Linked DNA regions of Homo sapiens. The protein of the gene in region 3 purifies or fractionates together with the protein of the main gene of each other region. This does not show direct contact. Each region holds a gene or a part of one and is shown on either strand. Other genes may lie near its edges.

Region 1 (8,002 bases), on a different chromosome or scaffold from region 3:
TAAAGTGTAGATTCCATTAAAGGAAAATAAACTGAATTCTTATCTGATTTCACAGTAATAACTCATTTCACTTTGGGGATTTCTTTTCATGAACTTTTCCAAACAGCCCATAACTTGGACCTCTGTGCATGATTTTAAGTAATTAGCGCCTTTTTTTTTTTTTTTTTTGATGGAGTCTTATCTGTGCAGTGGCGTGATCTCGGCTCACTGCAACCTCCGCCTCCTGGGTTCAAGCGATTCTCCTGCCTCAGCCTCCTGAGTAGCTGGGACTACAGGCACGCACCACCACGCCCAACTAATTTTTATATTTTTAGTAGACACGGGGTTTCACCATGTTGGCCAGGATGGTCTCTATCTCTTGACCTTGTGATCCACCCTCCTTGGCCTTCCAAAGTACTGGAATTACAGGCATGAGCCACAGCACCCGGCCTTTCTTTCTTTTTTTTATTTTTTTATGTTTGTTTGTTTGTTTGTTTATTTATTTATTTTGAGACAGAGTTTCACTCTTGTCACCTAGGCTGGAGTGCCGTAGCACAATCTTGGCTCACTGCAACTTCCACCTCCTGGGTTCAAGCAATTCTCCTGCCTCAGCCTCTCAAGTAGCTGGGATTACAGGCGTCCACCACCATGCCCAGCTAATTTTTGCATTTTTAGTAGAGACAGGGTTTTGCCATGTTAGCCAGGCTGGTCTCAAACTCCTGACCTCAGGTGATGCACCTGCCTCGGCCTCCCAAAGTGCTAGGATCACAGGCGTGAGCCACTGTGCCCGGCCAGTAATGTGCATTTTTGATTGTCAGGTATACATACAACTCACAATTACACATAGTTGTCCTCTGGTAACTATTTGAAACATACTGCACTTCCAGTCACATACACAGTACTTATTAATATAGATATGTGCCAAGCTCTTAATATGGAAACAGTTACTGGGAAGACTCCTTTTGATCACCCTGAAAGGCACATATTAAAATGCAATGAAAATGTATTCACATATATTAAAATCCCCAAGGGTATGTTAAAAACCCCAGCCATATCTTCTAAATGACAGTGCTGCTCTGGCCATGGTCTTAATAACAAGGCAGTTCATGGTAAACTGCCAGCACTGTTCAGGGAGTGGAAGAATAAATAAATTCAAGTTCTAAGATACCCCAAATTAAATGTGTCTTAAAGTTCTTATATCTCTAAATGATGAGTCAGCCAGGACTCTCAACGCTAGACCATACGATTCCAGAGTGAGAGCTAAAACCCTATCTAAACCTAACACTTTCTCTTGAGGGCCCCTTTCCGTATTATCTTCCAGCTTCAGAGCAGCAGGGCTCCTGCCTCCCACTTCTCTGTGTGTGAGTTATGAATGTCTTACCCCTGAGGCATGGAGGAATGGTGACTTCTTTTCAAGCAGTAATGTTCCTTGCCCCCGGTTTAAAACGCCTGCATTTAAAAGCCTTAGTTGTTTCCTGGCAGCATTACTCACAGTAGCCAAAAGGCAGAAACAACCCAAGTGTCATTGATGGATGATGAATGTAGGTGTTTCAAAACCTCACTTTTAATGCATCTCATATTAGTAAAAGTAATTTCACAGCAGCAAAGAGAACACGATAAATTTTGCACGGTGCAATTGGTCATCTTAAAATCAAGATTGGAGATTGTGGGTTCGGGCATCTGTGTTCTTGGGGTTGGCCAATTAAGTTACGTACTTGGGGGAAATTTTTAAGCAGGGGGGCAAGGGAAAGAAAAACTCATTTATATTCCAGACAGTGTATTTTAATTAATTATGTTACTGTACACAAAAAACTTTTATTTTCAATTAAATTTCTTAAATTTTCAATTGCATACTAATAAAACAGTAATTGATTTTTTTTAAGCGTTACAATAAACATGAGAGGGGAGGGGAAAGACACCATAGTGACAGGGTACAGAAAGTTTCTCAAAAAACTTCAAAAAGCTGTTTTGAGACAAATTACTGTTTTTAGATATGAAAAGTTCATTGTTAAGATAAAAGTGGGCCAGGTACAGTGGCTCACGCCTATAATCCCAGCACTTCGGGAGGCCCAGGCGGGCACATCACCTGAGGTCAGGAGTTCGAGACCAGCCTGACCAACATGGTGAAACCCCATCTCTACTAAAAATACAAAATTAGCCAGACGTGGTGGCGCATGCCTGTAATCCCAGCTACTGGGGAGGCTGAGGCAGGAGAATCACTTGAACCCAGGAGGTGGAGGTTGCAGTGAGCCAAGATTGCGCCATTGCACTCCAGCGTGGGCAACAAGAGTGACACTCCATCTCAAAAAAATAAAAGATGATAAAAGTGCCAGGCACGGTGGCCTACACCTGTCATCTCACCACTTTGGAAGCCTGAGGCAGAAGGATCACTTGAGCCCATGAGTTCAAGACCAGCCTGAGCAACAAAGTGAGATCCCTGTCTCTCAAAAAAAAATTTAAAAATTAGCCAGGCATAGTGGTGCATGCCTGTAATCCCAGCTACTCAGGAGGCTGAGGCAGGAGAATAGCTTGAGCCCAGGAGGTTGAGGCTATAGTGAGCCATGATTCTGCCACTCTACTCCAGCCTGGGCAACAGAGTGGGCAAAGAAAAAGATGATAAACGTATTATGTAATATAATGGTCGGCATGTATTGTACATATGTATCTATGGATAAAATTAACATTAATTAAATTAACACTCTAAGCACTTAATGTGTGTTGTAGCTCTTTAGTTAAAGATTGTTTCCTTCTTTTCCCATGTGAAATTTTTTTTTAAGAATTAAAGCCCAAAGGCATTGTCTGATATTTAGCAAGTACATTAAATCTGCTAGACTTATTGTCTTCCCTGCTAACTTAGGGTATTTTTTTGGTTGTCCGCCTCTATGGACTGTGGTAAAGCTAGGATTAGTAACCAGACATTACTTACCTTGGCTCCGATCTGGTTGCCACACTGGCCAATCTGAATATGGACAATTTCACGCATCCTTGCTCTGAGCCCAAGTCTGAGATCTTCACGGAATCCTCAGACTCTCAGAATCCAGAGCTTCGGTTCACTGGTGTGAGCCCAACACAACTGTGGTCACTGCAGTGGTGGGACTGGCCAACCAAGCTACCCTCACAATGTGACCAAGGGTGTGTCCACCCCAGAGGCCCAGCTCCCCGCCCTCAGCCAGTCCTGGCCCTTCTCTGCTTTCTGCCTGTCATGCTTTTGGAAGGGAGTGTTTTTCCTCCCTCAACACAGAATACTGCCCCATCATTTCCTAGAGAGTGAGTGCAAGATTAAAGGCCACCTCGGGGCACAGGGCCTGGAGGCTGGCACTGTTTGCAGGCTTCTAGGTGACCATGCTGGCCCTAGTGACCGTGGTATGATGACTGTGGCTCCTAGCTCACCCAGGTAACCAGACCACCTCCAAGGGCTTTCCCTGTCCATCTTCCCGGCCCCTTTTCCAGACTTTGGTCCCCAGAAGCCCCGTGCCCCGCCACAGCAGGAGGCTCCACAACTGGGCCTCGCAGGTCCCAGGTCCCGGGATGGCCTGCATCAGGCACTGTCTGCCCGCCCTCCCCCACATGCCCTCTCTCGCCCTGTATGCAAGTTACTCTGCAGTGTCCTGCAGGTCTCTTGGACCCCTGCCCTATCCATGCCAGGGCTGGGCTGTGCCCCAGCACCCTTCCCAGCCCCTGCTCTGTCGTCCCATCTCAGCTCATGGTGTCTGGGGTCTTAATGTTTGCCATAGGGTCCCTTTACCAGACCCTGAATTCTCCAAGAGCAAAACGGACTCCCAATTGTATTCCCTTAGAGCCGGGTGTGGTGGCTCACTCCTGTAATCCCAGCACTTTGAGAGGCCAAGGTGGGCAGATCACCAGAAGTCAGGAGTTCAAGACTAGCCTGGCCAACATGGCGAAACCCCATCTCTTACTAAAAATACAAATATTAGTCAGGTGTGGTGGCACACACATGTAGTCTCAGCTACTCGGGAGACTGCGGCAGGAGAATCGCTTGAACCTGAGAGGCGGAGGTTGTAGTGAGCCGAGATCATGCCACTGCACTCCAGCCTGGGCGACAAAACAAGACTCTGTCAGAAAAAAAAAAAAAAGCATTCCCTCATGCGGTGTACAGGAGTGGCAGCAGGCTGGGTACTCAGCAGCTTGAAAGCAGCTGTTCTGTCTCCTGGTCCTCAGTACCTCCCCTGCCACCAAGTTTCTATCATCGTCGAAAGCCAGCCCTAGGCTTTATTACCTCCAACCAGGCAAGGGCATCCAGGCCAAACACCAGCTCCATATCCTTGCCCAGGAGGGTGGCAGTTCCCCACCGCCTGGAGGACAGAAGGTGGAAGCTTCCAAGGAAGATGGGGAAGGGACTCCCTGAGAAGGCGTGAGAGCCCTGGCTCGGAAGGGGAGAGCCAGTGGACGCTGCCTTGTGCCTGTTGAGCTGTCGAGGTGCAGGTGGGCAGGTACAGGGCAAGGCCTCACTCCTGAAGCCCCGAGGATGTGGACAACCACCATCCGGTGAGCAACCACCTCTTGAGGCCTCTCTTTAACGTCTGCCGGGCACCCTGAGGTTGCCCCCATTCTTTGAACAGCTATGGACGGGGACCTGTCATAGGCTGGGCTCACCTTGGGCGCTGCAGACAAGGGAATGAAGGAGGTAGATGTGGCCAGATCCTGCACTCTTGGAACTCTGGCTTACTTAGGAAGAGAGCACTCCTAGCTCTGGAGCAGCTCAAGGACACCATCTCTCAGGACAGGGACTCAGGACAGGCAAGACTACTGAACTCAGAGCGAGAAGCCCTGGAGGTCCTTCCCTCCCCTGCCTCTCGCCAGACCCGTGACCTTGGTTGAAGCATTGGAGCCCAGCCTGGTCCATGAGGGGCCTGTGCTTCCTGTGCCCCAAGCCCAGGCTTGACTCCTAAACCTTGTGTTCCTTCTACAGGCCTGGTGGGGCCCAGGATGTGAGGTCAGGAACACAATCAGGAAAGTTCCTAACGATGGAGTGTCTGGGGGAAATCGCTTCTGCTTACTCCCAAAGGAGCTCAAACACACAGCCAAAGGGCCTGAGCTATAAACCAGAAGAGAAACCCAGAGGTGGGGAAGAAGAAAGCACTGTGTCCTAAGAGTGCCTGGACTGGGACTGCTTCTCACCTCTGTCTAGTGTGTAGATCCCAGGCTGCCCTTGAGTACTGACAGTGCACCCCATGATCCTGGGCTGGATCCAGGACCAGGGAAGAGGGCTGCTATAGAGGATGGTATGAGGATCATTGTCAAAATTCAAATAAGGATTGTGTACACTGGAAAATAGTATTGTATCAGTGTTCCATTTCTTGACTTTGATCATGGCAGGGTGGTTCTAAGTGGAAGTCCTTGTTTCCAGGAGATCCCATATTATGAAGCACTGTGCTTCAAGGTCGTTTTGATGCTGGCAGCTTACTGGGAAACAGTTCCACAACCACATAACGTGATAAACGGAGAGAGGGCAGTTCAGCAAAGGGGCAAAGTGGTAACAATTGCTGGTTCTTTTCAAAGTTAGCACAAGATTAATACCCTTGTAACATTTCTCTAAGTTTGGAACTTTTTTGTGCTCAAACCTGAATGTCACATGACTCACAGATGCTTCCGGTCCAGTCACCCCTCCTCCCTGCCCAAAGGTAAAGAGAAGAATGTGCAAATTCAAGAGGAGGATATTCACAGGTCCTCAGCAGTATTTTTCAGAAATTAAAACAGACCATTTTATTAATGATCTGTTTAAATTAAAACAGACCTATTCATAGGTCCCCAGCAATATTTTTCAGAAATTAAAACAGACCATTTTAAAATTAAGAATAGACCATTCTGTTTCCATAGACATTAGCCCATCTTGCCTCACTTCCAGCCTTTCTCCTGGCGTGCCTTGGCCTCTTTTCCCCTTGTCTCTGTCCCCACCAGCTCTCCCGAGCCTCCCTCCCCACCCAGGGGCCCCTGCCTACCAGACTTCTCCGAAGATCAAAGACAGCTCCATGATCTTCCCACAGGCAGGTCCCTCATCAGAGACACTTCCTCTCCTGGGGACCAGAGCACTTCAACCTGCAGTGCCCACACACAGTCCTGTTTGCTAATTACTTATACACATGCCTTATCTCCCGCCAGCCTGGGAGCTGCCTGTGTCGTTTCATCTTTGAGTCCCCAAAGTGCCTGATCCATGGCAGGGCCTCAGTAAATGTTTGTTAAGGGCACACTGACAGCTGGGCAGGTTTGAGCAGTGATGCTCAGAGCGGGCTGTGTTCTTAAAGCCAGTGATGTATTTATTCACGAGTGTGTCCTTCTCCAGGTGGGGTCACCTTTTTCCTCCATTCCATAAGAGGTGGTCTAGGCTGGAGATATAAACTGTTCCAAGAAACCTGGATGTTGGGGACAGACTATAGATGGAATAACCGCAGTGAGCTATTACGGGAAGGTGTGACCGGTGGGCAGCCGTGGCCTTCTGTGGCCCAGCTCCTGAAAGGAGCCCCTGTTGGCCACAAACCGCCTTGCTGCAGGGACCACGGGGCTGGGCCCAAGGGGCATTTCTGGTCTGCCTGGGTTCACTGTTTGCCATGTGAGCAGGATCCAGGCTGCTGGGGTCCTCCGCCCACCCTCCGCACTGCAGCACATTCCTCTTGGCCATCTTAGTTTGCTTAGGGAGGGGAAAAAGCCAGGTTTCCAGGTGGGCGCTTAAAAGGTTTTTCTGTTAATGGGGCAGTTGGCAAAAAGGAGGAAAAAGAGAGAAGCCCTGTTTGCTTTGATTCTTGTATCGCCGGCCATGTTAATTCAGGCCAGGCGAGTGCTGAGCTTTGGACGCTGGGCTGTGAGAGGGTGAGGGACGGAGTGGCAGCTCCGCCACCCAGGGGCCCATCTCCGCCCTAGACCTGAACTTTTTCACGTGAAAAATGAAATAAAAGTCCCCACGTCACAAGTCGGTGTGAGGACTGGGCCTGCCAGGGCTGACCCCTAACGTGTGGCTGCCGGTGGTATTTTTCAAGTGGGCTTCGCAGGGTGGGAGGGGGAGATGCATTCCACACCTACAGACGGAGCACCTACTGTGTGGCAGACTTGACATGGCCGTGGACATCGGGGCCTGTCTCAATTTAAAATGTCTGGGCAGAACAGAGTGGCAGGAAAGGCAGCAGGTCTGGAAAGCCGTGCGTCCCGTCTCAGCTCTCTTGTCCTTGTTTCTGAAGGTACCTGCTCCCCAGAGGAAACAGCTCTCCTCTGATTGCCACCTTAGTGCCAGCAGTGAGGTGGGGAATACAGTCTGCCTTGCCCTCGGACTGGTAGAAGCGGGCCCTGTGCAGGACATAGGCGAACACTGCCCCTGGAGATGCCGGCACGACCCCAAGGTCTGTTTTGCCAGGCTGAAGGTGACGGCCCCCGTCCTGAGCTGCAGCAAGCGATTCACAGTGGCCACTGTGATGAGTGACAAAGTTGTTTTCTGCCCCCCCAACAAAGGGCTGTGACCAAGGCAGGTTAGCAGTGCCTGCATTTAGGTGAGGAGATCAGCAAGCATTGCCCCAGAGGGCAGGAGCTTCCTCCTAGCAAGTGTGGTGAGGACGCTATGGCCCACAACACTGAGATTCCCAACCAGGACCAGCCCAGCCCTGAGCCTGAAACCCTCTCCTCCAGTGGCCTGTCACAGCCATCCACAGAAGGCTCCGCAGCAGCAAGCCTTTTCCTGCATGACACTTGCGTCTATTACAGAAATAGAACCGGGAAGATAAGAAAAACCAGTGTCACCCAGAAACCCCGAATCGGCTGCTTCCAGACTTCCCCCAGGAGTTATCCCCCAGGGGTCAGATGGAGCTGCCCCCACCCTCCATTTGGCAAATGAAATAGAATTCAGAGAAAAACAGAGCACTCAGAGAATTCATTGATTTCATCCGCCCCGATCTTCCACTTCTGAGTGCGTTGAAGTTCCCTGAATAACTCAGAGAAGATTGTTGAATTATACTGTTTGCGTGTGATTTAGAACCAGGAAATTTTTCCAAATGTCTTAGCAAGAAAATGACATCTGAGG
Region 2 (7,259 bases), on a different chromosome or scaffold from region 3:
CACTAACCTTACACAGGTCTACACAGGCATGCAGTAACAACTGGTCTCTTGGTTGGCTGGGGAGGGTGACGACTAATATTAAATGCCTACTTTGTGTAAGGAACCTTGCTTATGTTTCACACAAGTTATTTTGATCCTTATTATTTCCACCATAAAGATGAGGATATTAAAGGTAAGTAATTTTTCTTTGGTCACAGAGCTGGGAAGAAGATGAAGGGTATGGGGAGGGCAGTAGGAACCAGTCTGAGTCTAAAGTCTTTGCTTTTTTTTTTTCCTCTATCATCTTGTATAATCTTTGCTTTTTACTGACTCTGAGCTGAGTGAGATCATTCCTAGTGTAGGGCAGAGCTTTAGTAGAACAAAAAATGGCTAACAAAAAAGTTTTTCTTTATAAAATTTTCAAACACTAAACATTTTTTAAAGAGTTCCTAGGACTCAAAATTGTTGGGTCTTACCTTGATCACCTCTGGAGTCTGCTGAATCAAAACTGCTGAAGTAGTATCTTTGGCTTTATCACCAACAGGACTTCTACAGACTGATAAATTGGCCTGGGAGGAAGTTGTCAAGGTTTCCTGTAGAATTTGCATCATTTCCTTTTCTTGTGATAGGCTCCCTCTGCTTGATTTGCATTCAACTAGTTCTTGAGCAAAGTCTTCAATGCTTTCCAGGATTCGCAGTAAGAGGGCTCGATCCTCTTCCTCTATTTTGTGTCCATTGGTTTCAATAATCCTTGTTAGACAGGAAGGTGAGACTTTTTCTATGGGTGAAGAGACTTTAGATTTAGGCTCAAGATCTACAAGGGTCTGACCGGTCAACTGACTGTGACTATTTAAAAAATTAGAGTTTTTACCCTTCGCAAGTGGCTCTCTTAGAGAGGTCTCCATCTTCTGTGAAAAAGATTCCAAATCCATTAACAATTTATCTATCTCTTCCTGGCTACTGGAATTTGTAAAATCTCTCTGGTCTCCCTCTTCAAATTTAGAAACTTTTGATTTACAGTCTTCCTTAGGTAGATTAACAAATGATTTCTCAAATATCTTACCAATTTCATTTTGCATTGGGGTGGGGCATTTTTTAAGATGAGTAGCATGTTCTGGAAATTCTGCTCTATGTTCATTTACCTTTAATAACTCATGACTAGGTCCATTCTCTGTCTTTTGTCCTTTATCTAATGCTTTCTTTCCATCTGACTCTTCTTCAATATAAAGAGTTTCCATTAAGTCGTCAGAAGAAACATTTTCTAAAGGATTCATGGTTAATGACTGTGATTGGACCTGGACAGCTTTTAGAGTTCTAGGATCATTTACCTCTAAGTTATATAAGGAATTTGTGGAGTTGTTTGGAATGGATTGTACAGTGTCCATCTTCCTAGAATTAGGCTTGTCATTTTGCAATTCAATAGTTTGAAATCGTCCAGAGTCAGAAGCTGAGAGCTGGACAACATCTTCATATTTAGGGGGTTGTTCAGTGCCAAACACTGGGGAGAAGGGAGTCAGTTGTAAGCTAGGCATATTACTGATCAGTTCTGTTAAATCTAGAGCCTCATTATTCCCAGACTGCATGAATTCAAATGGTAACTTTTTCAGATAGGATGCTAACCTGGTCATTACATTCATATAGACAGTTTCAGAGCTAGAAATTGTATCATTACCACTTCCTTCACTGATGCTACTCCCTGATTTTTTCTTTATGCATTGTTTTATGATGTCTGTGCATTTTTTTAAATCCTCGGAGCATTTCAATAAGATGTCCAAGCACATCTTTATGTCTGTCCCAGAAGAAAAATTATCTATTTTATGTTTTTCCAAAATCTGAGTAACCAAGTCTTCTTCAGAAAAGTTTTGAAGAAACATGGAAGTCAGGTTCGTATCCAGTGAGTTTCTATGAGACAAAGGTTTTTCCTCAACTGAGGAACTCCGCAGTAAACCAAAGGATGGGGCGTTCCCATCGTTGTTATAATGGCCACAAAGCAAGTCCAAATCAACTGACCTCCTATTAAATGAGTCAGACTTAACTTTCCTTCCCTTTCTGTAAGCTGCATGGTTAGAGTTTTTGAGTTTTTCAAAGGAAAATTCTTTTATTTTCCCACTGGCAAAACTGATTGCTTCTCCTGCAATATCCTTTAAGTTGTAGGTATTCTGAAATGTAGATCCTCTCTTGACCCTGGGTATGCCTGTGAAGGCCTGTTGGGGATAGTCTCCTTCAGCCGAAGAAAGCCCATTTTCATGGGGTAGAAACATAGAGTTCAGATCTGCATCTTTGAACTGAGACACAGGGATGTGCAAGAGGTCTGCACAAACACTATGGTGTACCACAATGCAGTCAATTCCATGTGTGAAGGTGTGGCAGGTTCCAGTGCAATAATGTATAGCTTGTTCAAAACGCCGGTCTATCACCACGCTGCTGTAGTGGTTCACAGTACTAACCACAAGTCTGTAAGTTGCTGCCATAATATCAAATCCACTTACTGGTGGGACTTGGAACTTTCTAGAACTTGTTTCATGAAAATTCTCCTAAATGACAGTTAGCTGAAAATATATTTAATAACAATGTTCAGTGGTTTCTTCCAAATATAATGGCTTTTCCCATGAAGGGAAACCATTTATATTTGAGGTTTGGTCACTATCAGGATACAGTAGCTGCTGCACATGTGTGGCAAATTTAATAATTTAATAATTGTGCTTTTTAATTTTATTTAGTAATATTATGATACTGCAGAATTATTTTGATGAAAGAATATCCTCTTTTAGTTCTTCAACAGTTCTATAACATGGAAATTTGCTCTCATAAATTTACTATCATAAATCTTAGTTGGTAGTAGAGAAGTATTGTGATAACTGAGTCCTCCAAAGGTTTAAATGATTCATTTTTCTGTGAATGACAGAGAAACCTGTAATAAAAAAAAAAATTAAAAGGAAATTTTTTTAATGCTGGAACTTTTGATTTCCTCTTTCTTTGCATCCCATTTGCAGTTAACCACCACGCTTTATTATCTGCAATATCCCTTACAGCTGATATTCAACTCATGCCTTTGTTTCATCACACCTTATACTCCTTATTGCCTAGAGTAATATTACCTCAACTCTGCCTTGTCACATCTGCCTCTGAGATGAATTTCTTATTGCATGCTCCTTGCCACCTTATATGATATTAAGAAGCTTAGATTTACACGGCATTTTCATCCCTCACAGCTTAAAAATTCACACTTCTGATTTCCTCATGGATCACAGCAAGTCTACCTCTTTTGACTCACTTTTAAGTCCCTCAACACCTGTTCCAATCCATCTATAATCATATTTTCTACTATGTCCCTGCACCAACCTTTTGCTTCCATCAACCTAGTCTTCTCAAAGACTACCAACACCTAGTACCTGTTCTTGAGTCTCAAACTTCCTCTACTCCTAGAAATTATTCTCCCATCATCTTCTTTTTGCTTACTGAAAGAAAACACAAGTTTCATTACTGATCTTGATCCCATCTCCCAGACCCTGCTCCATGTGGATATCTCTCTCTCTGCATCAAGTGGACAGAATTTACTTAATCATTCTTTTTAAAGAACAGCTTTTAAAATATACTGTAGTTGCTTTCCAAGAAGGTTCTGTCAATGTATTTATTCCGTCAACAAATACTGACTACCTACTGTGTGTACCAGGTTCTTTGTATACACTAGGGATAGAGCAGGAAATAAAACAAGGGGAAAAAACCCAACATACAAGTTAAACATATAAACTTATCATATGGTGGCATGTGTTGGGGAGAAAAATGATGCAGGGCAAGGGTTTAGAAATGCTGGGAGGGTGCTGTTTTATGAAGGGTTGTCAGAGAAGACCTCACTGACATCTGAAAAGCAGAGACCTGAAAGACTAGAGGAAGGAGGCCAAGGAGGTATTATGAGGTAAATCCTCCAGGGTAGAATAACCGCAAGTACAAAGGCCCTAGAGTGGAGCATGCGTGATTCACTAAAAGAATGGCAAAGTGACCAAAGTGGGTGGAGCAGAGAAAGCAAGGAGACAATGTGGGAGATGACATGGCCTGTAGTCCCAGCTACTCGGGAGGCTGAGGCAGGAGAATGTCTTGAACCCGGGAGGCAGAGGTTGCAGTGAGCCGAGATCACGCCACTGCACTCCAGCCTGGGTGACAGAGCGAGACTCCATCTCAGAAAAAAATAAAAATAAAAATAAGTAAATAAATAAAAATCTGATGAACTTTTCACGAGTCATCTTGCTGAGAAAGAAAAAGGGGATGGGGCAAGACTTAAAAGAACGAATCACAAATTTAGGTCTTTGAGTAAGTTTTGAAAGGACATCAACAGCAGAAAACCAAACCTCAAGGGGTAGCACCAACTATCAATGAGAAATTTACAGTCTAAAATCATTTGAGTTAAAAAAAAAATGCCAAAGAATCAAAGATTACTTTCCCTGCTATTTGTTTCAGACCCATGGGTGTCAAATTCTGCCTTTTTATTCAGACCATAATTCAATTGATGCCCAGTTAACTAGATGGAATCTTAGACATGGAATCTAATCCACTATTTTCAATCAGAGATCCAACCTAACTCAGAAGCACCATGCAGTCCTGCGTCTAAGAGAAAGCTAGACTCCATGGTTTTGAAGCCCAATCCTGCCAGTGTGGCCTAATATAAGGTGGTTAACCTTGTCAGTCTGTTTCAACGGCAAAATGGAGAGAATAATAATACCCATCTCATGAAGATTAAGTTAACATATGTCAGATGCTTACAACAGTACCTAAGACTCAGTAAATGCACAATAAATATTATTGCTGTTATTGCTCTAATTCACTTATCAAACATTTCCTACTCTGTGCCTGACCCTGGGAGAATGATGCCAAATGACATATAGTGATGTCTTCGGAGTGCTCAATGTTTAATGAGGGCAGTGACAGAAGCAAGCAAGCACAGCAGCTATTGGGAGTGAGGCCAAGTTTCTCCCATTTTGCTCCCCCAATTAATAAATGTTCTTTTCAGAAAAGCTGGACAATATTCACAAGCAGAAATAAACACTGTTGATATTCTTATGTATATACTTTAACTTTCTCTTACAAAAATTTATAAATGTATGTATTTTTTACAAAATTTGGACCATACTATAACTTACTTTGACAATATCTCACAAATGTACTTCCAGGTCAAAATAGACATAGATCATTTTAATGAATAACATTCTATCATATAAATAAATTTAGCCATTTGTTATTGCTGAACATTTAGGTTATTTACTATTTGTTTTCAAATAAGCAGTGATAAACATTCTTTTACATATATTTTACATAGCTCTCCAGTTATTTGCTTATAATATATTCCACACAGTAAAATGTTGAGTCAAAAGATGTGTGTGTGTGTGTACATATACTTTTTCAAAAAAAGTCATTAGATACATAGGGCCAATCTAGAAGAGGGCCTGTTTCTCCATGTTTTCTTGGACTGATTCCTCTCTTTAAATTTTTGGTAATTTGATTGATGAAAAAAATGGAAGTACATTGTTTTAATCTTCATTTCCTTGATTGCTGGTAAGTCTGAATATCTTCTCATTTACCTATTAGACATTTTGTCATTGTTCACTTGTGAAGCCTTTCTTCATGTCCTTTGTCTGTTTTGAGAGGGAGCATCTGAATCAGACTGAGGAGTCAGGAAAAGTTTCCTGAAATATAGCGATGTAGGTACATAATTTTGAAGGATCAATGAGAGCTACTTAGACAAAAAGGAAGGGAAGAATACTCCAGGTAGAGGGAAACACATATGTGAAGGCAGAGAGGCAGAACACTGCACAGTGAATGCCGAAGTACAAGTAGTTCCAGCCAGTTTCACTGGCGGGCGTATAGAGACAAGCAAGAGGGCAGGAAAACAGAGCAGCAGCAGCAGCAAAAGCCAATCACAGTTGGCCTTTGTATGCTAAACTAAGGAGTCTGAACTTTATTCTGAAAGCTATGAGAAAAACAAAGACTTTTAGGCTAGAGAGTAAGAGTAACACGATGAAATTTGTTACAGAAAGATCACTGTAGCACCTGAGTGGAGGATAGATAGGAACCAGACTGAAGACCTAGAAATCGATTAGGAGGTTATGATAATAATCCATGCAAGAAGTGATGAGAATCTAAACCAAGTAGGTGACAGTAATAACAAAGAGGAGGGCACTGATTAGCCCAGGAGGAAGAATCCATAGAACAGCAGGAGGGGAAAGTGACAGGGAGGAATCTTGGATTTCTGGCTTAAGTACTGGGAGACTTGTGTTGCTAATCCTAAAACAGACTTTTTGTTTTTGTTTTACAGGGGGTGGCCACAGGACAGATAAAGTTATTTTCTGAATGTGTTGTTTGAGGAGGTACCTGTGGAATATCTAAGTGGTGATGACTGAATGAAATGTGAACACAAAAACCTGGAGGTCAGCAGAAAGATCTGGGTTGGAGACGCAGCTCTGAGAATTTACTCAGGGTGAGTGCATAAAGTGAGGGGAGCTCTGGACTGAGGAAAAGTTGAGGATCAATGACATTTCTGGGTTGAAGAGAGGAACAGAATTCTTAGAGGGAGTCTAAGAAGAAAGAGAAAAAGATAACAAGAAAACCAGGAGAAAGCAGTTTTATGGAGGCTGAAGAAGGGACTTTCCAAATGGAGGTCACTAGCACTGGATGTTACTAAGAGGTCCAGGAAAAACAAAAAACTGGATTTGCCAATATGAAGGTTGCTGGTATCCTTATCACGTGCAATTTCAGGGACTTGGTGTCAAAAAAAGTGGTGTAGGTAGACTAGATTTTCCATTAGTTTTTTTGCTAAGAAAAGGAGGGCTATAAAACGGCAGCTAGAAGAGAATGGAGATATGAATTTTTTCTTAAAGGACAGAAGATATTTGAGCTTGTGTACATGTTGAAGGGAAAGATCCAGAAAAAGCTTTGAGGACCCAGGAACTAGTAGCCAAAGCCCTGGTGAGGGGATTAGTCTCAGAGGAAGGTGGATACCTTTCCTAGTGAGGCAGGGGGAAAGAAACCAGTTTATAAATGGAAGAAGAAAAATACAAGGAATTTTTTTCCATGACAGGTTCAATTTTTCTCAGTGAAACTGAAAGCAAAATTATTGATTAAAGTTTAGGGGGCAGGAGAGGTATTAAGGAATTTGGGAAGATAGTGAAAATCTGAAATAGATGTTAATGAAAATAAGGAGGTATCTGATTAGGAACAGGCAAAAGTAAGGATAGATCCTGAAACACTGAGCAGGACTGATGTAGAAGTAGAGATGGTACAAATGACTA
Region 3 (7,534 bases):
TTTGCTGGTACATAACCTGGCGCCCCTCCCACTGCTGCGGCGCCTGGCACGGGCGCGGGGCTCCCACCGCCCCCAGGCTGCACAGGCCGCACAGGGTCCAGGCCCAGAGGCCGCCCAGCAGCCAGGCACCCAGGGCGCCCGGGACGGTGCGGAGGGGAGCGCGTCCTGGCATCGCGGTCAGCCTTCCCCGGCCCGAGGGCAAGCCCAAGCCCAAGGGGGCGCTGAGGCGTCCGGGATCAGAGTGGCTCCCGCCGGCTCTTTCCGCACTGTGCCGGGAGTGTGGTCTGGACCAAAGTGCTTCCTGTCCCTTCGGTGGCCTCTGCCGCTTTTGAGATCCGGACGCGCGAGTCCCGGTAGCCGGGACCAGGGCCCGGGGAAGGCTCCAGTGAATCGCGCGGGAGCTATTTCTGCCTGGGCCACTGCCTGCTGCCACTGCCTGCTGCCACTGCCTTCTGCCGCTTCGGTTTTCACTGCTCACTGCTGCCAACAGGAAATGCAGTGGCAGTGGTGCCACTAGCATCCTGGGAGGCATCGTGTTTTAAGAGGGGGGATGGGGGGAGACTGTGCTGAGAAGTGTGTTTCTCCACTAACTTCAGTGTTCAACAGGTAATCACACAGGGAGGGGCAAGTTCAAGGTCAAGATAGGAAAAGCAGAGCTGCTGCGTTTGCTGTGCAAACGTTTGCCCCGCCTACATTGCCCCTCGACAAAATTGCAAACTTCTTCCTCCAAATTAAAAGTGGAAAGACGAGTCTTTTCCTGAAGAAATGATACTAGCTATTCATCATGGCCGCTCCTCAGCTCCCATTCCCAGTGAAGAGTCTAGGAGACTAGTAGACAGCCCCTTGCATTGGGCCTAGGACTCATGGACATAGCCTCAAGGTCACATTGCAGTGAGACTGCTCCTCCCATCGCCTGGCAATACCACCAGCCGAGTGGTTTGGGTGTCTGGGGGGTTTCGCTTCTTCAAGAATAAGGTTAATTGGGTTTATAGTTATGTAATGTTAGGATCTATAATATGGAATGAGCGAGGCTCACACACCTGTAGTCCCAGCTACTCCTGAGGCTGAAGTGGGAGGATCGCTTGAGCCCAGGAGTTAGAGGTTGCAGTGAGCTATGATCATGCCACTGCACTCCATCCAGCCTGGGTGACATGGCGAGACCCTGTCTCTAAAAATATAGTGATAAAGTATGAAATCAAGAAAAAAGAAAGGAACTAAAAAAATGTATAGCGTCTTTCCATTTGAACTGCATTTCAAGGATGATTAAGATTGAGCCAGGTGAAAGTGGGAGATAACATTCCTGAATGAAGGGCATAAGGACAAGAAAAGAATAATGCTGGGGTTCAAGGACAAGGTAGAGGAGTACTCTGAAGCCATAGCACTCATTTTAAGGAATTTGTCATTGATATTGAGGACTGTGGGAACTATCAATCAATGTAAAGCTAGGGAGGAGCATCATCAGGCATATGCTTTAGAAAGCCCACTTAGACAACAGAAAGGGTAGGGCCAGAGGGAAGGCAGGGAGAGGAGGAAGCTACTGTTATCATCCTGGAAAGAGATGATCCTGACTCAGCTAAGGCAGCGGGAGTGGTCATGGAAAGGGTGGAAGACAGGTGGGAGCTGTAGAGAAGCATTTCAACTCAGAGAGAGAGGTTTCTGGTTTGGGCCACTGGGAATCCAGTCCTGAGTGAGGAGAGATGATCAATTCATTTTAGGATTGGTTGATCTTGAGCTGACTGTGGAGTATTAAGGTGGAAATATCCAAGGGACAGCTGGATAAATACTTCTGGAAACCAGCAGAGCTTTTGGATTAGGAAGCCATAGGTACATAGGTGGTAAATGAAGCCGAAGAGTAGAACAGTGGTTCCTGGGGAAATTTCACATCCCCCTCCCCAGCAAAGAAACATTTGGCAATATCTGGAGACATTTTTGATGATCACAATGTAGATGGGGAGGAGGCTACCGCTGACATTTTGTGGGTAGAGGCCAAGGATGCTACTAAACTTCCTACAATGTGCAGTACAGCCACCTCCCCTCTCCCAAATGAAGAGAAAATTATCTGGCCCCAAATGTCCTAAGTGTTGGGGGTGAGAAAACCTGGAGTTCAGGGGAGTGTTGAGTGTGAGAAGAAGGATTAGGATGGAGCCCCAGAGAGCTCCAGACATTTAAAGGATGGGCAAAGAACAGGCACTTGAGGAGACCAAAAGGAGTCACCAGAGAGAAGCCACTGAATGAGGCAACTTCCCGAGCCTTGTTAAATAAATGTAAGGCATGGAAAGAATGGACTGAATGCTGAAGTAGGGTGTTCTAGAATCACAGCCTCCCTGGAAGTCCCGAAGAGGAGGGACAGTTGACAGGTTTTCCTGATGCATCCTTCTCTGCTGCCCCCTGTCTGTCGAACCACCAGAGACACTACCAATGGGCCGAATGGGGCAGGCACAAAGCTTTAGGAAGAAGGGCTCTTCATTTCCTCTTACCTTTTCTTAAAGGGCATGCCTCAGAGAACATCAGGGAAGCCCATAAGACTTTGTGACTTGGTACTTACATAGTTAAACAGATGCAGCAGGTTCAAACTGGCTGCAGAAATTTGAGCCCTCTCCGAGTTTGCCCTGCTCAGATTCATAGGAAAAGTGTAGGGTAGTTCAGCTCTTTCTCTTGCTCCCCAGGTAGGAACTCCAGCTGAAAATCTTTTTCACCCAGTGAAGGGTTTAGACTCATTGGAGTTTACTGCTAGAAATGGCTTGAGATGTCATCTGGGCTTTCCTCCTCATGTGATATTTTACTAGCCTGGCTTGGCATCTTTGGAGGTGGAGACTGGTTCTATAGGAACTAGATTACCTTTCTAGAGTGGCTTGGCAGTGTAAGAACACCCTGGGCTTCCCCTAAATAAGAACCAGACTCTTTGGATGAATCCTGAAATGTATTTGTCTCATTTATCCTTTTCACTTACTATGTTTAATTCATGTTCCCTAAAAAATAAGATAATGCATTTAAAGTTCTTAGCTTCATACCTTGACCATTGTAAATTCCCAATAGATGTCACTTGTGCTTGTTGTTTCCTCAGCTGTTTTAATCCTTAGTCTTTAGTTTTAATCCTCAGTCAAAACTAAACTAATTGTGTAGGTTTAAGCTTTGGAGAGAAAAACCATGTGCCTTAAATTCAAGTTAAACTATGTTTTTAAAGATTAACATTCAGAGAACATGTTTCCATATTGCTGATGCCCTAATAAATAGCATATACCAGAAGTCTTACCACCTGAAGATTGATATACATCAATCTCATATAAATAAATCCTCCCTTTTCTGTAGATAGCTGAGCCAGCAATTGGACTACCTTTTCCTAATGCAAGTAAGATAAAAGAGAAAGCAAAACATACATACTTGCATCCCATAGTACACAGCTTCTTACTCAACTCAAGCAACAGTCTCTGAGCACATCAAAAATCAAGATTTTAGGCTGCTGAGGTGGAAATCCTTTGGCATGAAGGATCAGAGCAGGGGAGACCTTTCAGATTGTGGTGCCCAATGTTTTCTCCTGGGTTCCACTAATGCTGCAGAGGGGAACAGGGAGTTAGAAGGAAGAGGAAATGTTAGAAGACATTTCTGAAGCTGGAAGATGCTAGCACACCTTCCCCCAGTTCTGTTAACTTCCTGGAGCAGAAACAAACCAAGTGTTATACTGGAAAAATTTCGGCCCAAACTGTCTACTAGCAACAACAACAACAAACCACACTCCACACAACTAAGGGCGGAGTGGGAGTGATTTATACAACGTGACCCTCCTGTTCTGACATTCACTGCACTCTCGCCTGCCTTGCAGGACATTGTCCCAACTGTCCTCAGCGCTCCTCATGCCCCCTACCGGAGAAAGCAAATATATTTCAGAATTAGAGGGCAGCAGAAGCTCCTATTTTCCCCCAACTCTATACTTGGAAAAACTCTAAGGCAGAGGGAGCAAAGTTCAGTTTTCAGCCAAAGAGTGTCTTTCTCTCTCTTGAAATTCTCTCCCGCACCCTCTTGTATCCGGTGTCGAAAACAACTGCCAGAGGTTCTTTTTCTTGGTCCGAAGAAAAAAGACTGGCCAGACTAAAAAGGAGGGACTTTAGGGGGAAAGCAGGCTTCCAGCCCTGGGCTGCGGCCCAGAGGGGGTGATGTCACCGCTTCTGCACCGACGGGCCTGGGGGTGGGGCGGCCGAGGGGGAGCCCGCGCCGCGGCTGCAGCTGCCAAGGGAGCGTTCCGAGCCCACGTCAGGGGAGGTGTCGGGATAAATAGGGTCCCGCAATGGCCGTGGCTGGCTGCGCTCCGAGCTGCGGAGTCCGGGACTGGAGCTGCCCGGGCGGGTTCGCGCCCCGAAGGCTGAGAGCTGGCGCTGCTCGTGCCCTGTGTGCCAGACGGCGGAGCTCCGCGGCCGGACCCCGCGGCCCCGCTTTGCTGCCGACTGGAGTTTGGGGGAAGAAACTCTCCTGCGCCCCAGAGGATTTCTTCCTCGGCGAAGGGACAGCGAAAGATGAGGGTGGCAGGAAGAGAAGGGCGCTTTCTGTCTGCCGGGGTCGCAGCGCGAGAGGGCAGTGCCATGTTCCTCTCCATCCTAGTGGCGCTGTGCCTGTGGCTGCACCTGGCGCTGGGCGTGCGCGGCGCGCCCTGCGAGGCGGTGCGCATCCCTATGTGCCGGCACATGCCCTGGAACATCACGCGGATGCCCAACCACCTGCACCACAGCACGCAGGAGAACGCCATCCTGGCCATCGAGCAGTACGAGGAGCTGGTGGACGTGAACTGCAGCGCCGTGCTGCGCTTCTTCCTCTGTGCCATGTACGCGCCCATTTGCACCCTGGAGTTCCTGCACGACCCTATCAAGCCGTGCAAGTCGGTGTGCCAACGCGCGCGCGACGACTGCGAGCCCCTCATGAAGATGTACAACCACAGCTGGCCCGAAAGCCTGGCCTGCGACGAGCTGCCTGTCTATGACCGTGGCGTGTGCATCTCGCCTGAAGCCATCGTCACGGACCTCCCGGAGGGTGAGGCCGTAGGAAGGATGGAGGGAGGCGAGGAGGCGCCCGGGGCTGTGGCTGCCAATCGAGAACTGGGCGGCCACACCTAAGGCTGCCAGGGGCGTCTGAGGCTTGTAGGAGGTGGGAAAGAATGGGGGAAACATTTTCTTCAGAAAAAGTCTGGTTTCTCCCATAGGAATTTTAGGAGCTAGCGGAGAGCACTGCACCCCATAAAGAAAAAAAAAAAGATTTTGCTTACAAAGGGAGCCTTCGATGATGTTTGCATTTATAGTAATAACAGAAATGATAATAGCAGTAAACAGGTGTTGCTAGGTGTCTGAGCAAGTGTTAAACACATTACACGTTATTGACTCATTTAATGCCCAAAATAATCTCACCAAGCAGGTGCCAATACTCGTTCCATTTAGCGCTACTTCTTAAAAAGTTTTTTTTTTTCTGAAAAAGCAGTAACGGTCATTGCTTCCCACCAGGAGTGAGATTTGTAATTGCAGTTTCCCTGGAAAATTGTGAGGTCTGTTTCATAGTCATTGGCCCGGAGCCAACTACAGTGGCATTTTAGTTAACCCCATCTCTGCTTCCACTTCCTTCTTTTTTCTTTGGTCATTTGACTGCTTTTCTAAAAAGAAGGAGAGGTTTAAATTCACTTCTTGAAATGAAACCTAGGAATATTTTTGCATTCTTTTATCCAGGCTTTATCTGGCCCAGGTTACCCCACATTTAAACAGACTATGATATTGCTGTGCTGGAATCTCTGAAGTTATACCCCAGAGCATTGCTCTAAACATGAAGGAGGAGTGGTTAAGTGAACAGGGTAAATGGAAACTCCTCTCTAATTTAGAGTTTTAGGAAAGAAAACATATTTATTGTTTAAATTATATAAATAATAGAGGGTTATGCTTGGTTTTGGTTATATACCTGTGAACTGTTTCTGCACTGCAAGATATGAGGTAGGGATTTGGAAATATTTTGGTTATTTTGATTAACATAAACTGTTAACTTGGAAAATCAACATTTAAATATGACTTTGGGAGAGAGTGATGTGATTTATCCAGTTTGGTTGTATATACCAGTGAGGTTAAATGGATATACATTCACATCGATTTGTGCTTGGATAGGCAAATATTCCCCCAGAGGATTTCTTTCCTAAGCCCTGGATATCATTATGAAAGGAGAAGTCAACAATCACATGCCGTTTTTACTTATATAAATATTTTTTGTCTTGTTTTCTTTTTTTGAGATGGAGCCTCACTCTGTTGCCCAGGCTGGAGTGCAATGGCACAATCTCAGCTCACGGCAACCTTCGCCTCCCGGGTTCAAGCGATTCTCCTGCCTCAGCCTCTAGAGTAGCTGGGATTACAGGCATCCACCACCATGCCTGGCTAATTTTTGTATTTTTAGTAGAGATGGGGTTTCACCATATTGGCCAGACTGGTCTCAAACTCCTGACCTCAGGTGATCTGCCCTCCTTGGCTTCCCAAACTGCTGGGATTACAGGTGTGAGCCACTTCGCCTGGCCCATTTTTACCATTAAATACTATTATTTTGAGATACTGTTTTAGTTTATATCTTCAGAGGGCTCTTTATACCAGCTGGGTGAACAGACCAAATCACCAACCACGCCCATGTGGCCCTGTTTGTGTTTCAGATGTTAAGTGGATAGACATCACACCAGACATGATGGTACAGGAAAGGCCTCTTGATGTTGACTGTAAACGCCTAAGCCCCGGTGAGTTCTTTCTTCATGGACGTTCCCTCTACTTCTCCTCTCCAGAGTGATTTCTGTTCTTTTTCCAACTTTCTGCCTCTTCTGCCTTTTTTAGATCGGTGCAAGTGTAAAAAGGTGAAGCCAACTTTGGCAACGTATCTCAGCAAAAACTACAGCTATGGTAAGTCGTCTGTTAAAGCCATTTACTTTTGAGACTTGGTTCATTACAAAGCTGGAATCTCAATAAGGTCGCTCTCACTAAAGCTAGTCACAAAGTAAAGAAAACAAAAGGTTGACTATTTTTCCAGTTGATCATGTGAATTCTATTAATATATGGCACAATAACAACTGCAAAATATCTTGCTTTTCTGGATGAATCAAGTGCAAACAAAGGAAATGACCCAGGTGATAAAAATTACATGCATCAGATTGAAAATTTGACATCTTGATCCTCCTTGTCTTGGTGAGAAGTGCTTATCAGCCCTGATGGCACACCCCACCTGTTCTCTTCCTGAGGTTTTACTGCTGCAGGAAGAATGAGAGAATGATCCATGGATCTGATTATCTGAGAGTCAGAGAATTAAGGCCCATAGGCCCAGACAATTAAGATCTGCCTGCATATCCTTTTACTTGTGACTAGCTACAAATATTTAACATCTTAAATAAATTGTGAAAAAAATGTTAATCACAAAATCCTATGGTTACACTATCGAACTAGTTTAAATGCCCTCCTCTCTCTTACTTGAAAGAACCATTCAGCATTTTCTTCCATGAATAAGTCAGTCATGAAATTTGAAATGTTTTAAGTAATTTTAA
Region 4 (7,259 bases), on a different chromosome or scaffold from region 3:
CTTAACAATATCAATAAAGTAAAACAATGTTATTAACTTTAAAAGCTCTGAAAAGTGAAAATGACCATGAGAAGTTCTACATATAATAGAAAAGTACTCACCTATGAATCAGGAGTTCACAAAATTTGTAGTGACCTTTGTCTGCTGCTATTGTTAAAGCAGTATCTCTTGAGGAAGGCACAGGGGGAGCATTAACATCTGCTCCTTTATCAAGAAGAACTCTTCCAACCTCTGCATACCCTCCAGAAGCTGCTTCCATCAAGGGGGTAAGACCCGTCTGTTTAAACCAATAAATTATGCAACTAAGTTACATTTCTTTTTTTAACTATTCCGTAGACCAAAACTAAGCTACATAATTTCTTTAAAAACCTGAGGCAATTAACTTTTAAGACAATTCTAGTTCTGATTAGCTCTCATAAAAGAGCTAAGCAATATTTTGCCTTGAATTTTACTAAACAGCAGTAGAAATTGTTAGATTCAGACGTGCTAGAATGAACTTAAAACATGTTATCTCATGCTAAAAACAATTCTGTAACTTCTATACTTTTGTGAATTTACTCAGATAATTTCTTTGCATAATGAATAGAGATATTAAAAATAAGTAGATTAAAATCACTTTATAAATTTTTTGCATATGTGCCTTTGGTACGTTAGTCTCCAACATTTTTTCAAAGGACATTTCCTACTGGTACTATCCAAAATAACACAGATTTCTCTAGGACCTTTAATGGATGAGTGGCACACAATGAATACTTGTAATAGAAAAAGACAAATTGAATGACAGGAAAGACTCATTTCTCTTTGTGTGGTAAAAAGCCAAGGAAAAACTACACTTCCTCATTACTTAGATTAAAAGAATGTAAATGTTGCACTAAACTTTAAGAAGTAAAAGGAATTTCAGGGAAGAAGTACGAGATTTCCAGTCAAATCTTTCCAATTTCAAATGAGCACTAGATTCTCTGTTGACTAATTATTAAAAATTCTACCCAACCTACGTCTTTCCAGAGTTCTAAGAACCTTGCAGTTCTAAGCAAAGAAATTCAAGCCAATGACATACTAACTCCTATTTTCTTTCCTCTGTGTGTGTTTCCTGCATCTATGGAGATTATCTTATGACTTTTCTCCTTTATTCTTTCTTTTTTGTGGGGGCGGGGGGTGGGATGGAGTTTCTCTCTTGTTGCACGGGCTGGAGTGCAATGGCGTGATCTCTGCTCAGTGCAACCTCCACCTCCCAAGTTCCGGTGATTCTTCTGCCTCAGCCTCCTGAGTAGCTGGGATTAAAGGCGCCTGCCACCACGTCCAGCTAATTTTTTGTACTTTTAGTAGAGACGGGGGTTTCACCATATTGGTCAGGCTGGTCTCAAACTCCTGACCTCATGTGATTCACCTGCCTAGGCTTCCCAAAGTCCTGGGATTACAGGAGTGAGCCACCGCGCCCAGCCTCCACTAACTCCTATTTTCTTAATACCAAATAGTCATGAAACTGTCAAAATCTGCCATGGTCAAATTAGATGTTAGCTGCCCTAATTTTATAACTTGTGAATTAAATTTTTGCTTGGGATTTTTACAATGATAAGCACATACCTCATTAAAGGTGTTCTTTAAAAGTCTACAGTGTAAGAGTTAATACAAAATAATCTTACTACATTCAAAAGTTGTAAGCTGCAGTATTAATAGAAAGCTACTCAAGGCTGAGGTTGGGAAAAGTACTAATTCTGTTTTCTTCATTGTCCTTAATAAAAGTCATGATGGTGACAGTATGTCACTCACTATTATACAGCATAATCCCTCAACTCTGCATTGGTATCAGTTTTAATTTATGATAATTTAAAATATTATATTCAATTTGCGTTAAAATGCCATGTTCTTTCTACAGAAATGTATCTGAAATAGTTGACAAGTAAAAAATGCTTACCTTTGCCCTATGTTCAACATTGGCTTTTCGGTCCAGAAGCAAACTCACTACTTCTGCTCGGCCCTGGAAACAGGCCAGGGTGAGAGCCGTGTTCCGATTGGTCTCTATTTGGGCATTAATGTCTGAACCCATATCGAGCAGCAATTTTACTGCAGGAACATGTCCATTCATTGCAGCCAACATCAGGGGAGAAATACCTAGTTTACTCCCAGTCCTAAAGGGGGAAATGTGCTTAGAAAATTAAAATAATATGTTGCCTATTATTTTAGAAAAGCATTAAAGATGAAAAGGTTTCACTAAAAAGAGAGGTTTCTAACATCAATGAATAGATTTTACTTGTTTCGACCAATAATAAAGAATAAGAAAATGTCACAATTTAAAACATAATTTCCGGCCAGACATGGTGGCTCATGCCTGTAATCCCAGCACTTTGGGAGGCCAAGGAGGGCAGATCACCTGAGGTCGGGAGTTTGAGACCAGCCTGACCAACATGGAGAAACCCCATCTCTACTACAAATACAAAATTAGCTGGGTGTGGTGGCGCATGCCTGTAATCCCAGCTACCTGGGAGGCTGAGGCATAAGAATCGCTTGAACCCCGGAGGCAGAGTTCGCGGTAAGCCAAGATCGCGCCATTGCATTCCAGCCTGGGCAACAAGAGCGAAACTCCATCTCAAAAAATAAATAACTTAAAAAATAAAATGTAATTCCTATTTAGGGATTATAAATTTCCAACTATATAAAATAAAATACCGTTTCTGAGATCAGATGAGATTGGGCACGTTTAGGGTGGTAGGCCATAGAACAAAACACTTTTTGAAATGAGACCTCTTTATAAGCAGCCACATTACTGAAATAAGCTGAGATTACTTATAAACAAACACATTATAGGTATAATCGTTGGCTTTGCAACTTTAGTACTATCTTAATTTAAAATGTATCTGTCTAAACGTTAAGAGGTAGACATTTAAGTCCAAAGTAGTAACTTACTAAACATGAACAATAAAATGAACAGGCAATACCTTGAATTAATTTCTGCCCCAGCATTAAGCAGAATCTTAATGATATTAACATATCCTCCAGACGCAGCTAGACTCAGTGGTGTATAATCAGATACGTTCCTATGTTCTTTATTTGCACCTCGAGCCAGCAGCAAGTCTACCACCTACAAAGTAAAATATGGATAGAGAAGAGAGTTTACACCAAGGGCTCAACTTATAATGAAGGAAACACAAAGAAACAGGACTTATAACTTCCTTATCTAAATATCTGATATTTTAATTACATTTCATTAGACCCTAAATATTGAAATATCAACACTAGAGAAATGGATTCAATTTCAGGAATTCAGAGTTTTGAAATCCCAATTATACTGCAATAACAAGATGTTACCCTTTCTATTTGCCATTTATTGGGCAATAAATTTGCACTTCATATGTGTTAGAATTGTGATTCATTCAATCCGAATAAATGTAAGGATTAAGATAATTTTTATTTGGCTTTAAGGGCAAGAAACAGATTTTTTAAAAGGGGATTTATGGCCAGGCATGGTGGCTCATGCCTATAATCCCAGCACTTTGGGAGGCCAAGGCAGGAGGATCCCTTGAGGCCAGGAGTTCAAGGCCAGCTTGGGCAACATAATGAGACCTCATCTCCACCCTCCTGTTCCCTCCACAAACCCCCGCCAAAAAAAAAGGGCATTTACATTCCCATAAAAGTTAACAGAAGTACCCATTCCTCAGAAAGTATATGGAACATGTTAAAATACGTGCAGGGCCAGGCATGCTGGCCCATAACTATAATCCCTGTACTTTGGGAGGCCGAGGAGAGAGGATTGCTTGAGGCCAGGAGTTTGAAATCGGCCAGGGCAACATTACATGACCCCATCTCTACAAAACAGCCCTAGCTACTTGGGAGGCTGAGGATTGCTTGAGCCCCAGAGTTCAAGGTTATAGCGAGCTGTAATTGCACCACTGTACTCTAGCCTGGGAGACAGAGCAAGACCCTGCCTCAGAAAAACAAACACACAAAATACATGCAAATTTTATTCATGTAGCTAAAATACGAATCATATGCATATTTTAAAATACAAGCAAAATATTTACAAAATGAAAATTAACATTAACACACCTCCTGACGTCCACCAGAACATGCCAATGAAAGCGGAGTATCCTTAGTTCGTTCAGACTGTGCTTCTATATCTCCACCTTTATCCAAAAGGATTTCAACAACTCCAACATGCCCTGCTGTTGCTGCCAGGATTAGTGGTGTGAAACCTAAATCAGAAAATGAAAATCTTAAACAAATTTATGTTTTTTATTTTATTTTAAAGCCACTGTTTACAATTCTCTAGTATTTTAGCAAAATAAATCCTTCAGGGCAGACACTGATAATGAGTTAACATAAAACTGCTCTAAACCCTAATTTGTTAGTGACAAAAAACCCATAAACACCTAATTAAAAAACTAAGTCGGTAAAAATTATTAAAGTTTATACTCATAATGAACTTTGATGCCTCTGTATGAACTACCTTTGGATTAACAAAGGCAACCACAACTTGCTCTATTTCACTAATGATCTACGTCTAATTTTTGAATGTTTTGAGAATTATTTGGCTCCGCAGAATAATGAATCCAGATATTCCTAACTGAAATATACTTATCCATCTTATCACTGAGATAGTCTAGGAACTATTTATCAATAATAAAAAAGTTAATTATTTTCTGATGTAACTACACTTGGATTTTATTTCTGACTGATATTTACCTTTTTTGTCTCTGTGTTCAATTTTGGCATCCCGTGCAATGAGCACAGATACAAGTTCTTCATGACCACCTGCACAAGCTAGTGTTAATGCTGTGTCATGATTGCTCTCAGTCTAGGAGAAGAAAAAAATAAGTTAAAATTTTTTTTAACAGAAGTTATCAATTTAAGAGCAAATAATATTTCTTTTCACAATAAATGCAGAATAATTTTCCTTTCCAAAGAAGATCAGAATGTGCAAAATAAGTTTAAATAAAGCAATCTACTCACATGTGCATCAATGTCAACTGAAGGATACACAGGAGGCATCGATTGGGAAGCCACATTGCTTGTAGTCTGCGAACAGGATTCAGGTGTAAGACACTCTGTGGTCTGAGAAGAACTGTTGGAACCAGTGGGCACTCTGGTACTCACAGCTGAAAAACAATATTCATATTGCTAAATTCCACTTAAAAGAGTAAGGTTATTTGTACATAGAAAAACACAAAAACAGAAATTTCCATAGCAGTAATATGTAGTAATAGTAAAATCACAAGCTTTGGAATCAGACAGACCTACATTTAAATATTAGTTCCAACACTGACTTTCTGATCTTGGGCAAGTAATTTAACTTCTCTGAGCTTCAATTTTCCCTATATGTAGAATGGCGAAAATAATGGTACCTGCCTTGGAAGGTTATTGGAAAGACCACTGAGGCAATGCAGATAAAATACTTAACACAGCACCTGATATTTAGTGCACATACATTAAATAGTAGCTTTTTGCATTGCCAACAGGGAGGAAAAAAAATTTCCAAAAATAAAAGTAAATAAAAGGAATTCTAGATTTTAGTTTGTAAAAAAGTCAATTAGATAAAAATATCCTGTGTACAATTCAAAAAAAGGGGGCTGGGCGCAGTGGCCCACGCCTGTAATCCCAGCACTTTGGGAGGCCGAGGCGGGTGAATCACCTGAGGTCAGGAGTTTGAGACCAGCCTGGCCAACATGGTGAAACCCCATCTCTACTAAAAAAAACAGAAAGTTAGCCAGGTGTGGTGGTACATGCCTGTAATCCCAGCTACTTGGGAGGCTGAGGCAGAAGAATTGCTTGAACCCAGGTGGAGGCTGCAGTGAGCTGAGATCACGCCACTGCCCTCCAGCCTGGGTGACAGAGCTAGACTACATCTAAAAAAAAGGGTGGGGGAGGGGAGGGAGACAAGTTCAAGTATTTCTCACATAAATAGCAGGGAGTATGTGTTTCCTAAATTCAATATTTATTTTGAAACTTTGTTAAAAAATCAGTATCTGAAAGTCCAACTATTTTTAAAATGAACATTGAAGTTCTATTTGAGATCTCAAAATGTGGTTTGAAAACTGAGTTAAGTCCAGGAGCGATGGCTCACGCCTATAATCCTGGCACTTTGGGAGGCTGAGGTGGGCAGATCACCTCAGGTCAGGAGGGTTGGGAGTTCAGGACCAGCCTGGCTACCATGGCAAAACCCCGTCTCTACTAAAAACACAAAGTTAGCTGGGAGTGGTGGAACGCGCCTGTAAGCCCAGCTACTCGGGAGGCTGAGCCAGGAGAATCGCTTTAACCTGGGAGGCGGAGGTTGCAGTGAGCTAGGATCGCACCACTGCACTCCAGCATGGGCAACAGAGTGAGACTCCATCTCAAAAAAAAAAAAAAAAAAAAAAAAAAAAAAAAGAAAGAAAACTGAGTTAAAAGAAATTATGTATTTTATATCTCTGAAAATTTCTTATGTTTCTTAAGAGATGGAGTTTGACCACGGGGGGAAACAGGACCTATCTCAGGGATGTTGTGAGTAGTCTAAGAGATACTGTATATAAAGCATTTAACACAGTGTTTTTAGCAAATGGTGGGTGCTCAATAGATGTAACTATCAGATATTTTATAGGATTGTCAATACTATTATTCATTGTATTGAAAAATAAAAACATTATTCACTCAAGAAAGGAAAAACTCAGAAAAAAACATATAATCAGTAATAATATACAAAAAAATCAACAAAGCATCAGTGATGGCAATAACCTTACATTTGCACCCAGATTAAAAGTCAGTCAAAAACACGTAGGACTTAAAGAAAAATGTAAGCATTTTAAGTGTTGGAAAATATTTTCTCTCTAGAATTTTTGATATGACTAGATCCCATTCAAAGATACTATTCGTAAGTGTGAATGACTCAGTTTAGTAGATTACTAGTTTAAATAAGTGAGCAAAGTTTAAGATGCCCAGATATATTTCTACATGAGCTACCCAGCTCATCCCCACCAACATATATAACCATCTTGGCAATACAAATTTCTCCAGCTTCTGTCATCACATAAATAACATAATTTAACTATTTAGTTACAAATAGGAATAATTATTACATATGTTTGTTTCACCTATAAGAATATGCAAAATGGAAACAAAGCCTTAAAATTTTTTGTCATTTTTTTCCTGGAAGAAGTGGCCAAGAAAAAAATAATAGTAATAATGAAAAATTGTTGTCATTCAATGAGTTAAAAGCAGATACTATTTTGTTACACCTCCTCAAAATAGCTGATATGTTTGGAAAACTGCTTGAAAAAACAAGACACTGA

The links.
Region 1: the proteins of SFRP4 (region 3) and TUBB1 purify together in Homo sapiens (affinity purification with mass spectrometry; 3 studies listed by BioGRID and IntAct, with this or other methods). This does not show direct contact.
Region 2: the proteins of SFRP4 (region 3) and PPP2R3A purify together in Homo sapiens (affinity purification with mass spectrometry; 3 studies listed by BioGRID and IntAct, with this or other methods). This does not show direct contact.
Region 4: the proteins of SFRP4 (region 3) and ANKHD1 purify together in Homo sapiens (affinity purification with mass spectrometry, with the first as the bait; 3 studies listed by BioGRID). This does not show direct contact.

Annotation. Positions count from the first base shown.
Region 1 is NC_000020.11:59,014,483-59,022,484, reverse strand, and holds the start of TUBB1 (tubulin beta-1 chain), read right to left. Parts: upstream 3,057-8,002; 5' UTR 2,963-3,056; coding exon 2,906-2,962; intron 1-2,905. UniProt on the Homo sapiens protein: Tubulin is the major constituent of microtubules, a cylinder consisting of laterally associated linear protofilaments composed of alpha- and beta-tubulin heterodimers.
Region 2 is NC_000003.12:135,996,690-136,003,948, reverse strand, and holds part of PPP2R3A (serine/threonine-protein phosphatase 2A regulatory subunit B'' subunit alpha), read right to left. Parts: intron 2,891-7,259; 5' UTR 2,451-2,890; coding exon 456-2,450; intron 1-455. UniProt on the Homo sapiens protein: The B regulatory subunit might modulate substrate selectivity and catalytic activity, and might also direct the localization of the catalytic enzyme to a particular subcellular compartment.
Region 3 is NC_000007.14:37,913,578-37,921,111, reverse strand, and holds the start of SFRP4 (secreted frizzled-related protein 4 precursor), read left to right. Parts: upstream 1-4,294; 5' UTR 4,295-4,574; coding exon 4,575-5,019; intron 5,020-6,658; coding exon 6,659-6,739; intron 6,740-6,833; coding exon 6,834-6,899; intron 6,900-7,534. Other genes in the region: EPDR1 (mammalian ependymin-related protein 1 isoform 1 precursor), read right to left, coding at 1-172.
Region 4 is NC_000005.10:140,502,655-140,509,913, reverse strand, and holds part of ANKHD1 (ankyrin repeat and KH domain-containing protein 1), read right to left. Parts: intron 5,094-7,259; coding exon 4,948-5,093; intron 4,793-4,947; coding exon 4,681-4,792; intron 4,191-4,680; coding exon 4,045-4,190; intron 3,080-4,044; coding exon 2,937-3,079; intron 2,130-2,936; coding exon 1,916-2,129; intron 278-1,915; coding exon 102-277; intron 1-101. Other genes in the region: ANKHD1-EIF4EBP3 protein, read right to left, coding at 102-277, 1,916-2,129, 2,937-3,079, 4,045-4,190, 4,681-4,792, 4,948-5,093. UniProt on the Homo sapiens protein: May play a role as a scaffolding protein that may be associated with the abnormal phenotype of leukemia cells. Isoform 2 may possess an antiapoptotic effect and protect cells during normal cell survival through its regulation of caspases.